Homo sapiens: one gene and its partners. The protein of the gene in region 2 purifies or fractionates together with the protein of the main gene of each other region. This does not show direct contact. Each region holds a gene or a part of one and is shown on either strand. Other genes may lie near its edges.

Evidence for each region.
Region 1: the proteins of NGDN (region 2) and DDX10 purify together in Homo sapiens (affinity purification with mass spectrometry; one large-scale study listed by BioGRID and IntAct). This does not show direct contact.
Region 3: the proteins of NGDN (region 2) and ESF1 purify together in Homo sapiens (affinity purification with mass spectrometry; one large-scale study listed by BioGRID and IntAct). This does not show direct contact.

The regions. Positions count from the first base shown.
Region 1 is NC_000011.10:108,678,534-108,682,192, reverse strand, and holds part of DDX10 (probable ATP-dependent RNA helicase DDX10), read right to left. Parts: intron 2,823-3,659; coding exon 2,633-2,822; intron 1-2,632. UniProt on the Homo sapiens protein: Putative ATP-dependent RNA helicase that plays various role in innate immunity or inflammation. Plays a role in the enhancement of AIM2-induced inflammasome activation by interacting with AIM2 and stabilizing its protein level.
Region 2 is NC_000014.9:23,472,646-23,475,789, reverse strand, and holds part of NGDN (neuroguidin), read right to left. Parts: intron 620-3,144; coding exon 482-619; intron 233-481; coding exon 148-232; intron 65-147; coding exon 12-64; intron 1-11. UniProt on the Homo sapiens protein: Part of the small subunit (SSU) processome, first precursor of the small eukaryotic ribosomal subunit.
Region 3 is NC_000020.11:13,778,385-13,782,043, forward strand, and holds part of ESF1 (ESF1 homolog), read right to left. Parts: intron 1-3,659. UniProt on the Homo sapiens protein: May constitute a novel regulatory system for basal transcription. Negatively regulates ABT1.

The DNA of each region.
Region 1 (3,659 bases), on a different chromosome or scaffold from region 2:
GCAGAGGCTGCAGTGACCCGAGATCATGCCACTGCACTCCAGCCTGGGCGACAGAGCAAGACTCCATCTCAAAAAACACTAGACTTTAAGGCAAAAAAGAATTAGTAAAGATGAAAAGAAACATTTTATAAAATGAAAAAACACCGGGAGTAGGGAAGTGTTTTGCTACTCGTATTACAAATAAATAATTAATTTATCTAAAGGGCTCCTCCGAGCCAATAAGAAAAAGGCAAAAAAACCAAACCAAAAAAGACAGACTGTCCACAGAAAATAAGCACATACATGCAAAAAAGAAGCATTTCATAATGATTAATGTTTCAAATTGACAATGCAATTCTAAATTTGTATATACCTAATAACATAAGCTCATGACATATCTCAAATTTGAAATTTTTCATAATCCACCATAGAATTCAACTTGTCACTGAAAAACAGCAAATTGCTATGGCCCAAAGGCATATTCTCTCAAAAATAAAATCATTAGAAATACCAGTTGTCTATATATAACCACATAATGAAAACACTAGTATACTTTTTCTAAGTATGCTCTGACTTACAACTTCAGAAAGATCTAATTTTTCTTTAGTTGTTGTGTCCTTCACAATTTGAGAGTAGATACTCTCTAACACCTTAAAATATTCTTGATTATTATCTCTCCTGGTGTATGAACCACATTGATAAGCTACTAAAGTGGAAAAGCTAACATTGACATTAGATGAAATTCCTAAGAGCATCTGCTTTTTTATGTTTCCTATAAATTTGGAATATTAGAATACTGCAGCCATTATCATATAACCTGAGGTTTTGTAAATTATGTCAATACATGTCTACCTTCCAAAATTTTTTTCTGAAAATTTTGTCCACCACACTTTTATAAGTGATGGGACCGGGTTTCAAAAATCATTTGTGAAATAATATCAAAGTCTTTGTAGTTTTTTTCTAAAACTTTGTAATTTACAGAAAATAACCAACTCTTACCTACAGAAATTGGGGATAGGAAATAATACGTACAAATTAACTTGCATAAATTATGAAAGGTCTTAGAGACATCTAATGATTAAAAAAATCTGTCTGATGAATATTAAAAATAGGCTGGAGGCAAACAGAAAAAAGAGAAAAGTGAAAAATCCTAGACAAGCAGTCTTTACATTTTCAAGTTAATTGTTAATTGTCACAAAAATTTTCATAGCTATCTCAACTCTTTAAGAGATCAATGTCCACTCGAAAGTAAGCCAAGGGAAAAAAACTATACCTCACATATCTTACTATTCCATTCCCAAGTTCTTGAAAGTCAAAGATACCAGTACTCAGATTCCCCAAGATCACCCAGAAGCAAAGAATCTGGCCTCTTCGTCTCAGGCTTTTTAAATCCTAGACATACATTATACAAGGTCAAGATGGGCCTGAATACTCATATTTTCTCTATTTAAGGAATTTCCAGATAACACAATTCATTTTCCAAATCTATTTCTTTTTAGGCTAACATTTCAGAGCAAGAAGAAATAAAAATTTTAAGATATAAATAATAGAAGAGTTGAATTTACATTGCTATCTTCAACAAAAAATCCAACTTTATATTTACTGGAAAACATTTCTCCTGGAAGTCTGCAGTGATTCATACCAAATATATATGCTTCTAATTGTCATATGAAAATACAACTTAAAACATATCCCAGCTGGGCACAGTGGCTCATGCCTGAGTGTAATCTCAACACTTTGGGAGGCCAAAGTGGGAGGATTGCTTGATCTCAGGAATTTGAAACCAGCCTGGGCAATGTAGTAAGTCTTCAACTCTACAAAAAATTTTAAAATTAGCCACGCATGGTGGTATGCCCTGGTTGTCCCAGCTACTCAGGAAGCTGAAGCAGGAGGATTGTTTGAGCCCAGAAGTTGAAGGCTGTAGTGAGCTATATTCACACAACTGCACTCCAGCCTGGGTGACAGAGCAAGACCCTGTCTCGAAAAAAAGAGATAAATAAAAATTTCCCCAACTACTTGCATATCACAAACATACATACTTTTACTGTAACACATATACTTTAAGCTCTAGTTTTTAATGAGACCAAGACAAAACAATAGTTGCTAGAATTTTAGACTGAAAGGTATTTTGCTAAATATTAATGCACTTCATAAAATGTGTTCCATAACACATTAGTACTGCATAATCCTGCTAAAAAGGATGATTCCGTACCCAAAAAATTTGGTAAATGTAGCAAGCTACATCCACCTCCCTCCCACTGCTTTCAACAATCACAATGTCCCTGAAAATATTAAAGGTTGTGAGAAATAGAAATAAAACTGTTTCACTTTGACTCACCATTTGCTATTTCATCCCTTCTCCCTTCGTTTATTAAGAGGTAGTGTTGGCAAATGGTAAAATACCTCTTAACATCTATGGAAAAACATTTGTTCCCCTCCCAGACCACATTTTGGGAAATGCTACATTCAAGTACCCTGACATTTAAAGATATATGCAGAATTTGGGTAATTTTAACTGGTATATTTACTATGCTTTGCATAACCAATAACTCATAGAATGTCTTAATTCCCAGAAAACAGATATTTAAAATACCAAATCCCTAAACTAAAAAAGTAAAAAACATTTATCTTGATTGACTCAAAGAGTACATACCTATATTTTGCTTTTTCATGAACCCAGACATACTCAGGGTTTTTCAAACTCAAGCGTGCAAGGTCCTTTACAGATTTAGTTTGTGTTGCTGAGAAAAGTAAAGTCTGACGTTTCTTGGGGAGATTTTCAATAACAGCATTCATGGTATCAGCAAAGCCCATATCCAAGATTCTATCTGCTTCATCAAGAACTGAAAAAGGAAAATGCAAGTTGAACTATCATATGTAAAATATACATTAGGCTAAATGCAATGGGTATCCTGGATTGGATCCTAAAACAGAAAAAGAACATTAGCGGAAAAACTGGTAAAACCTGAATAAAGTCTGGAATTTATATGATGTAGCAATGTTAACCTTAGTTTTGATAAAAGTACCATGTCATGTAAGACATTAACACCAGGGGAAGGCTGGGCACAGTGGCTCAGGCCTGTAATCCCAGCACTTTGGGAGGCCAAGGTGGGCAGATCACAAGGTCAAGAGGTCAAGACCATCCTGGCCAACATTGTGAAACCCCGCCTCTACTAAAAATACAAAAATTAGCTGGGCGTGGTGGTGCACACCTGTAGTCCCAGCTATCGGGAGGCTGAGGCAGGAGAATCACTTGAACCCATGAGCCGAGATCATGCCACCGTACTCCAGCCTAGCAACAGAGCGAAACTCTGTATAAAAAAAAAAAAAAAAAAAAAAAAAATTAGGGGAAACCAGCTGAAGGATAATGCAGGAACTCTCCACTGCAACTTTCCTACAAATCAAAAATGTTCAAAGATAAAGTTGATTTAAAAATACACATCAGGTAGTATTCCCAAGCAAAAAAGAAAAAGTTCATTTAAAAAAATGCCAATTTGACCTTTCAAGTTATTAGAAGCAGGTGTTAAAAACCTTGGCATGGTCTAATACTAACGTGCCTAATTTCACATATAAGCGTACATACATTCTTCTGATTTTTTTAAGTCTACTTTTACTTTCTGGGTTTAGAGCCCAAATGCCAAAATGTTTCAGTAATTTTTAAGTTTGTTTTGAATCATAAC
Region 2 (3,144 bases):
CAACCCCTTACCTTGCTCATCATATTGCTGGGATGAGGCTTAAAACGAAGTGGGTCATTCTCACCTGAAATAAATAACCCAATGAATTTTACAAAATTTGGAACTTTCTGATGGTCCCCACAACTTCATGATGGTCTCCTCACTTACTAAGGCTGCCTGTCACTGCAGTCTTGATCAGCTTGTCAATTTGATACTTCAGCTTTTGGTCCAAGGGACGAAGCTTTTCCAAAACCTACAACATGGTAGTTAATCAGGATTATATTTCCTTCCCAAAATGAAGCACACACCAGAGTCCCTATATTAAGGTGCCACATAAGGCACCTAAAATATGTACAAAGTAGAGCAAATGAATAGAAAAATACCTTTTCTCATTTGGTTTCCTTAAACATGAGAAGACTCACTTAAATGAGAGCTACTGTGTGATACCCTTGGAGCTCAAAATTTAGAAACCTAAAACTCCAAGAAGCCAAATGCTTCATACCGTGCGAATCTCCACCAGTCTCAAAACTGCATCATGTCCCTGAAGAGATCCTCCTGAGGCTTTGTCCAGAATGAGGTGGGTCAAATCCATAAGGTACATGAGCAGCAGCTGGTCTTTCACTTCCAAGAAGCTGAGACCCTGAGTTGAACAAAACAGAAAGAAAAACAGATTTGGTTTTAGCCAAAGAACCAGATGAAAGCCTAGGGTAAACGGGATGTTTTTCCAAGTTCAAGATTTTCCCAATCAGTTCATATTAGGTATCTGGAATAGTCTCAAGAAGTAGCTATGCCTAAGAAGGCCAATGAGAAAGTTATGCTAATACAAGAGAAACAACGCTCAGAAAATTAATAGAAGACAATGAGAAGAGGAAAATCAATAAACTACCCCCCCAAAAAAGACTATAACAGGGTTTCTCAATCTCAGAGCTATTGACATTTGAAGCCAGAACATTTTTTGTTGAGGGCTGTCCTGGGCATTGTAGGTTTCCAGCAGCATCCTTGGCCTCTTCCCACGGATGGCCCCTCCAAGCTCTAACAATCAAAAATGTCTCCACAGACTGCCAAGTTTTAAATTAATTTAATCAAAGTAATTACCAATTTCCCCCCATACAATGGAATTATATGATACAGGTAAAAACAATGATTTATATATAATGACATCGAATTAAATCCATGTCACCACAAGTTGTAGAAAGTGTAATATGACTTCAATTGTGAAAGTGTGTGTGTGTAGGGGGGGATATGATGAATACATTTTATACACATAGAAAAATGTCTACAAGACAACACACAAGTAACTGCTACCCCTAGGGTGAGATGAGGAAAAGGAAGAAATGGTGTACTTTAGAGTGTGAAAAAGTGTTGCATATATTATTCTTATAATTTTAAAAATCTCAAAAATATTACCACAGTGGTTATCTCAGAGTGGTGATTATACTGATTTTTCATTTTTTTCTTTGGGCTTTTATGTATCTTCCAAACTTCACAGCCCTGAGAAAACCTATTTCAGAGAGGTTAAATACTTGGCCAAGATAACACAGTAATACAAGTAGAGCTAAGATTCAAACTCAATCTGACTCCAACACCTCATCCCTGGATGTCTTTAAGCCAACATGCTAAGCTCTTGAGATCAACACTACTGTGGTATAGAAGGAGAGCAAAGGATTTAGAGTCCACAAACTGAGTTTAAGTTCTGAATTAGGTGTTTGGTAGTCAAATATTGAGTAAGTCACTTAACCTTGTGACCTCAGTCTTTTTTTTTTTTTTTTTTTTGAGATGGAGTCTCACTCTGTCGCCCAGGCTGGAGTGCAGTGGCACTGTCTCGGCTCACTGCAACCTCCACCTCCTGGGTTCAAGTGATTCTTCTGCCTCAGCATCCCAAGTAGCTGGGACTACAGGTGCCTCCCACCACGCCCGGCTAATTTTTTGTATTTAAGCCAAATATTCTATGGGTAAATACAAGTATGAAAATCATTGTTAATAAGAGTCACTGAAGGAGTTTTAAGCACAGGAGTTATAGCAGATTTGTGCTTACAGAAAGATAACTAAAAACAGCATTCAAAATATATTCCCTTCTTGTCTTTATCATTCACTTATGTTCTTACTGTCCATTTTTATTTAAAAAAAATTTAAATCTTTGTTTAAGATTTAAGAGACGGGGTTTCGCCATGTTGGCCAGGCTGGTCTCGAACTCCTGACCTCGTGATCCACCTGCCTCAGCCTCCCAAAGCACTGGGATTACAGCCGTGACCCACTGCACCAGGCCAACCTCAGTCTTATCAGTAAAATATGTACATTTCCTCCCTGCCACAAAGAATAATTATGAGGCCCAAATAAGATAATGTGAAAGAACTTTGTAACCTATAAAGCACCTAGTAAAAGTCTTTGGTCAAAAAGATAAGTTAATATGTATTTGTTCAATAAATAAACAAATATATAGGGATCTAAGAAGGATGCTGGCAACTCATCCATCTCCAAAAGGCACTGAAATGGTTCAAGGCATGGTACCCAAGGCCTGGTGTGGTGGCTCACACCTGTAATCCCAGCACTTTGGGATGCCGAGGTGGGTGGATCACCTGAGGTCAGGAGTTCGAGACCAGCCTGGCTAACATGGTAAAACCTCGTCTTTACTAAAAATACAAAATTAGCCAGGAGTGGTGGCGGGCGCCTGTAATCCCAGCTACTCGGAAGGCTGAGGCAGGAGAATCACTTGAACCCAGGAGGCAGAGGCCGCAGTGAGCCAGGATCGTGCCACTGCACTCCAGCCGGGGCGACAGAGGGAGACTCCATCTCAACGAAACAAAACAAAACAAAAAAGCATGGTACCCAGGACAAAAACAGGTAAGAATTTGAGAAGCAGGCTCTTCCGACGTGCTTGGGCATTGTCAAATTCAAACTGAGCTACAAGCATATGAGAGAAAAACAAAGATTTAAATTTTTTTTAAATAAAAATGGACAATAAGAACATAAGTGAATGATAAAGACAAGAAGGGAATATATTTTGAATGCTGTTTTTAGTTATCTTTCTGTAAGCACAAATCTGCTGTAACTCCTGTGCTTAAAACTCCTTCAGTGACTCTTATTACAATGATTTTCATACTTGTATTTACCCATAGAATATTTGGCCTAAATATCTTAGGACAAAAGCTCAATATATAAAAACAG
Region 3 (3,659 bases), on a different chromosome or scaffold from region 2:
TTACAGACCCAGTCTATCTAGTATTGCAATATTTCTCAACTGTCAGTCATTATACCATTTTCATGATTTTTGAATATCATTTTTTTATTAAATTGAATTTTTTAAAAGTTAGTTTTGCTCTAAACAATATTCCTAAAGTCACAGAAGTGATAGGGTAATTACATTGTTTTCTAAGATGTTGACACAGTACATAACTATTAATATTTTAGAAGTTTGAGTATCATCAAAAATCTTCTCACTTATGACAATGGTACACATACCACACTTTGGGTTATATAATAATAAAGTGTTGCATAAGAGACTTAAAGAGGTCTTCCATTTCAATGTTTTTAACAATATCAACTGCATTCAGAGTATTTATTCATTCAATAAGTATCTGCAGCCGAGCACAGCTGCTCACGCCTGTAATCCCATCATATTAGGAGGCCAAGATGGGAGGATCTTGAGCCCAGGAGTTTGAGACAAGCCTGGGCAACATGGCAAAACTCTTTGTCTCTACAAAAATACAAAAATTAGCTAGGCATGGTGGGGTGCACCTGTGGTCCCAGTGACTCGGAAGGCTGAGGTGGGAGAATCACCTGGGCCCAGGAAGTTGCGGCTGCAGTGAGCTGTGATTGCACCACTGCACTCCAGCCTGGGCAGCAGAGCGAGACCCTGTCTCCAAAAATAAAAATAAAAAACCCCAAAAAGTATCTGCTTAGAGCCCACAATGTACACAGCCTTGTGCAAGATAATGTGGGGTTACACAAATATAAATGTCTCTATTCCTAGACAGTATTGCTCTAGTAGTGACTGTAAACATTACTACTTATCCAGCTACTTCAAACAAAAAACAAAAAAAAACCAAAAAAACTGCTTTACCATTTTCCCCCAATTATAAACATAATGAATGATCATTACAAACCAAAAAAAGTTAGGAAAATATGGTTAATAAATAAAACAAAGGTGACTAGCAGTAATTTTTCATTCAAAGATAACTGGTTATTTTAGTATACAACCATATCCCTAAATTTCTTTTCTTTAATTTAAATACTAATTTGTTTAAAATAACTGGTCATATCGTTATTTTGGAACCTATTTTTAAAACTTCATAGATCACAGATGTTTGCATATATTTAATTAATCTCTTAATGATTTGTTACCATTTTAATTTCTATTTTCATTTTTTGAGACAAGGTCTTGCTCTGTTGCCCAGGCTGGAGTGCAGTGGCACGATCTTGGCTCACTGCAACCTCTACCTCCTGGGTTCAAGTGATTCTCGTGCCTCAGCCTCCCAAGTAGCTGGGATTACAGGTGTGCACCACTATGCCCAGCTAATTTTTGTATTTTTAGTAGAGACCGGGTTTTGCCATGTTGGCTAGGCTGGTCTCAAACTCCTGACCTCAAGCAATCCACCCGCCTCGGTCTCCCAAAGTGCTGGGATTATAAAGGTGAGCCACTGTGCCCAGCCAGTTACCGTTTTATTTTAAAAATAATGCTGCAATGCACATTCTTTGCACACATCCAATTATTTATGTAAAATAGATTCTGAGGAGTGCAAGTGCTGGGCATGAACATTTCATGATGACAAATATCACACTGCAAGTCCTCACATCACCTTTACTTCACAGCACTTAAAAAGGCCCTTGCACACAGTAATTGCTGTAATAACTGATGAATGGATAATGAACAGAAGATTATATATGGAGCCGTGTAATCCTTATTTATGAGTAATGCCTTTCCTAGACTGTGGAACCAACAAAATTACTGCAAGCAATGTGGTGGGGTAGAAGGAGTCAGAAGACTTGAGTTGCAGTTCCAGGTCTGCATGTCCTTACATAAGTCACTTTAATCTTGTTCGCTGATACAGTCTTATTGCTCAAGGTAACTAAGAAAATTAAATGAGAAAAGATATGTAAAAAAGTCTGTAAAATCAATCTAAAGGATTATATAGCTATGTTATATTAATTCAGTGCCCCAAATGAAGTGGATGCTAGACTAACTTACCTCACTAATTCAGTGTCAAATCAACTTTGCTGCCGGTCCCACTCCAATCTTATTCTTCAATTTTAGTAACCGGATTCCTATCCTTTCTTCCCACACCTCAAGAGGTCTGCTGCCTGGTTCCACTACAAATGTAAAATGGGATACCACCACTGACTCCCTAGTCCTTGCTATCCAGAATTCACTCCACTGCCTGATACCTTCTACCCTCACAGTGTGATCTCTGCTTATCAAGACCTCTTGGCCTATCAAAACCTCTTGGCCTATCAAGAACTCTTGGGCTATCAAGACCTCTTGGCCTATCAAGACCTCTCGGCCTATCAAGACCCCTCCTTGGATCCTGTAATCACAGGTCTGGCTCATGTGAACTACTACTGGTTTTCAGTTACATCTTCAACTATCAGCAACATCAACACTCAAAATTGCTTGCTGCTGGAGGTGACAAAAAATTTTAATTAGTAAACACGTAATGCAAACTAGAGCCAGCTGTCTCTCACCTAGTTCCAAACAATCATTTCTCGCTGCTACTCATTTTGGCCCTTCAAGACCTTATTATCTAATCAAACGGGACTACTGACCTCTTCTGAACATGCCCAATCACATCTTTGCTCAAAAAGTTCTTTCCATGTAGCACACTCTGGTCCTCAAACTTAAATTTTTCCACACCCCAAAGTAGTGCGTCCCCTATGAATTTTTCTGATTACCACATCTTGAGTGACTTCTTCCTCCAGATTTCCATGGCTTTCTGCTAAACATCTTTTACGGCACTTACTATTATTGCATTTTGTATTATGGTTCTGACTTTCTTCTACTTTAGATCTATATTGTCCAATATGGTAGCCAGTAGTCACATGTGGTAACGGAGCACTTGAAATGCGTTTTGTCTAACTTGACATTAATATGAAAATAGTATTAGTATGAAATGAGTAGAAAATGGGATGTAAAATATACATTGACTTTTATATTGATTACATATTGAAATAATTTTGATATATTGGGTTACATAAAATATATTATTTAAAATAATTTTACCTGTTTCATCTTACTTTTTAATGTGGTTACTAGAAAATCCAAAATTATGTATTTCTACTAGACAATGTTGCTTTAGACAGGGGCCACTGCACAAAGTTTAGCAGGCTGTTATCCGCACAGGGGCATTTATAAAAGGACAAGAAGGGCTAAAATCAAGGCCATCCTACACTCACCAAGCCATGCACTCTGGAGGGGGCTGTGTCTGCTCAGGGGCAAAAAATCTGTTGCTTCAAAGGCGCCATCTCTTCACCAAAGTGTGACCCCTGGGAGCTCTGTGTGTCCAGAGAGCATGCCTTTTTCTAATTTGCATAAAGGCATCATATAAGCTAGCGACAGCCCTGAGATGGGTGACGACGCCTTACTCATATTCTGCCTGCCACATACTAGTGGCAAAGCAACTGAACAAATTAATGAATGAGTACTCAACTCTACTTACCCTCTTATTTTATTTTTGAGACGGAGTCCTACTTACCCTATTTATTTTATTTTACTTTTGAGACAGAGTCTCGCTCTGTCAGCCAGTCTGGAGTGCAGTGGTGCAATCTCAGCTTATTGCAACCTCCACCTCCCAGGTTCAAGCAATTCTCCTGCCTCAGCCTCCCGAATAGCTGGGACTACAGGTGTGCGCCACCATGCCTGGCTAT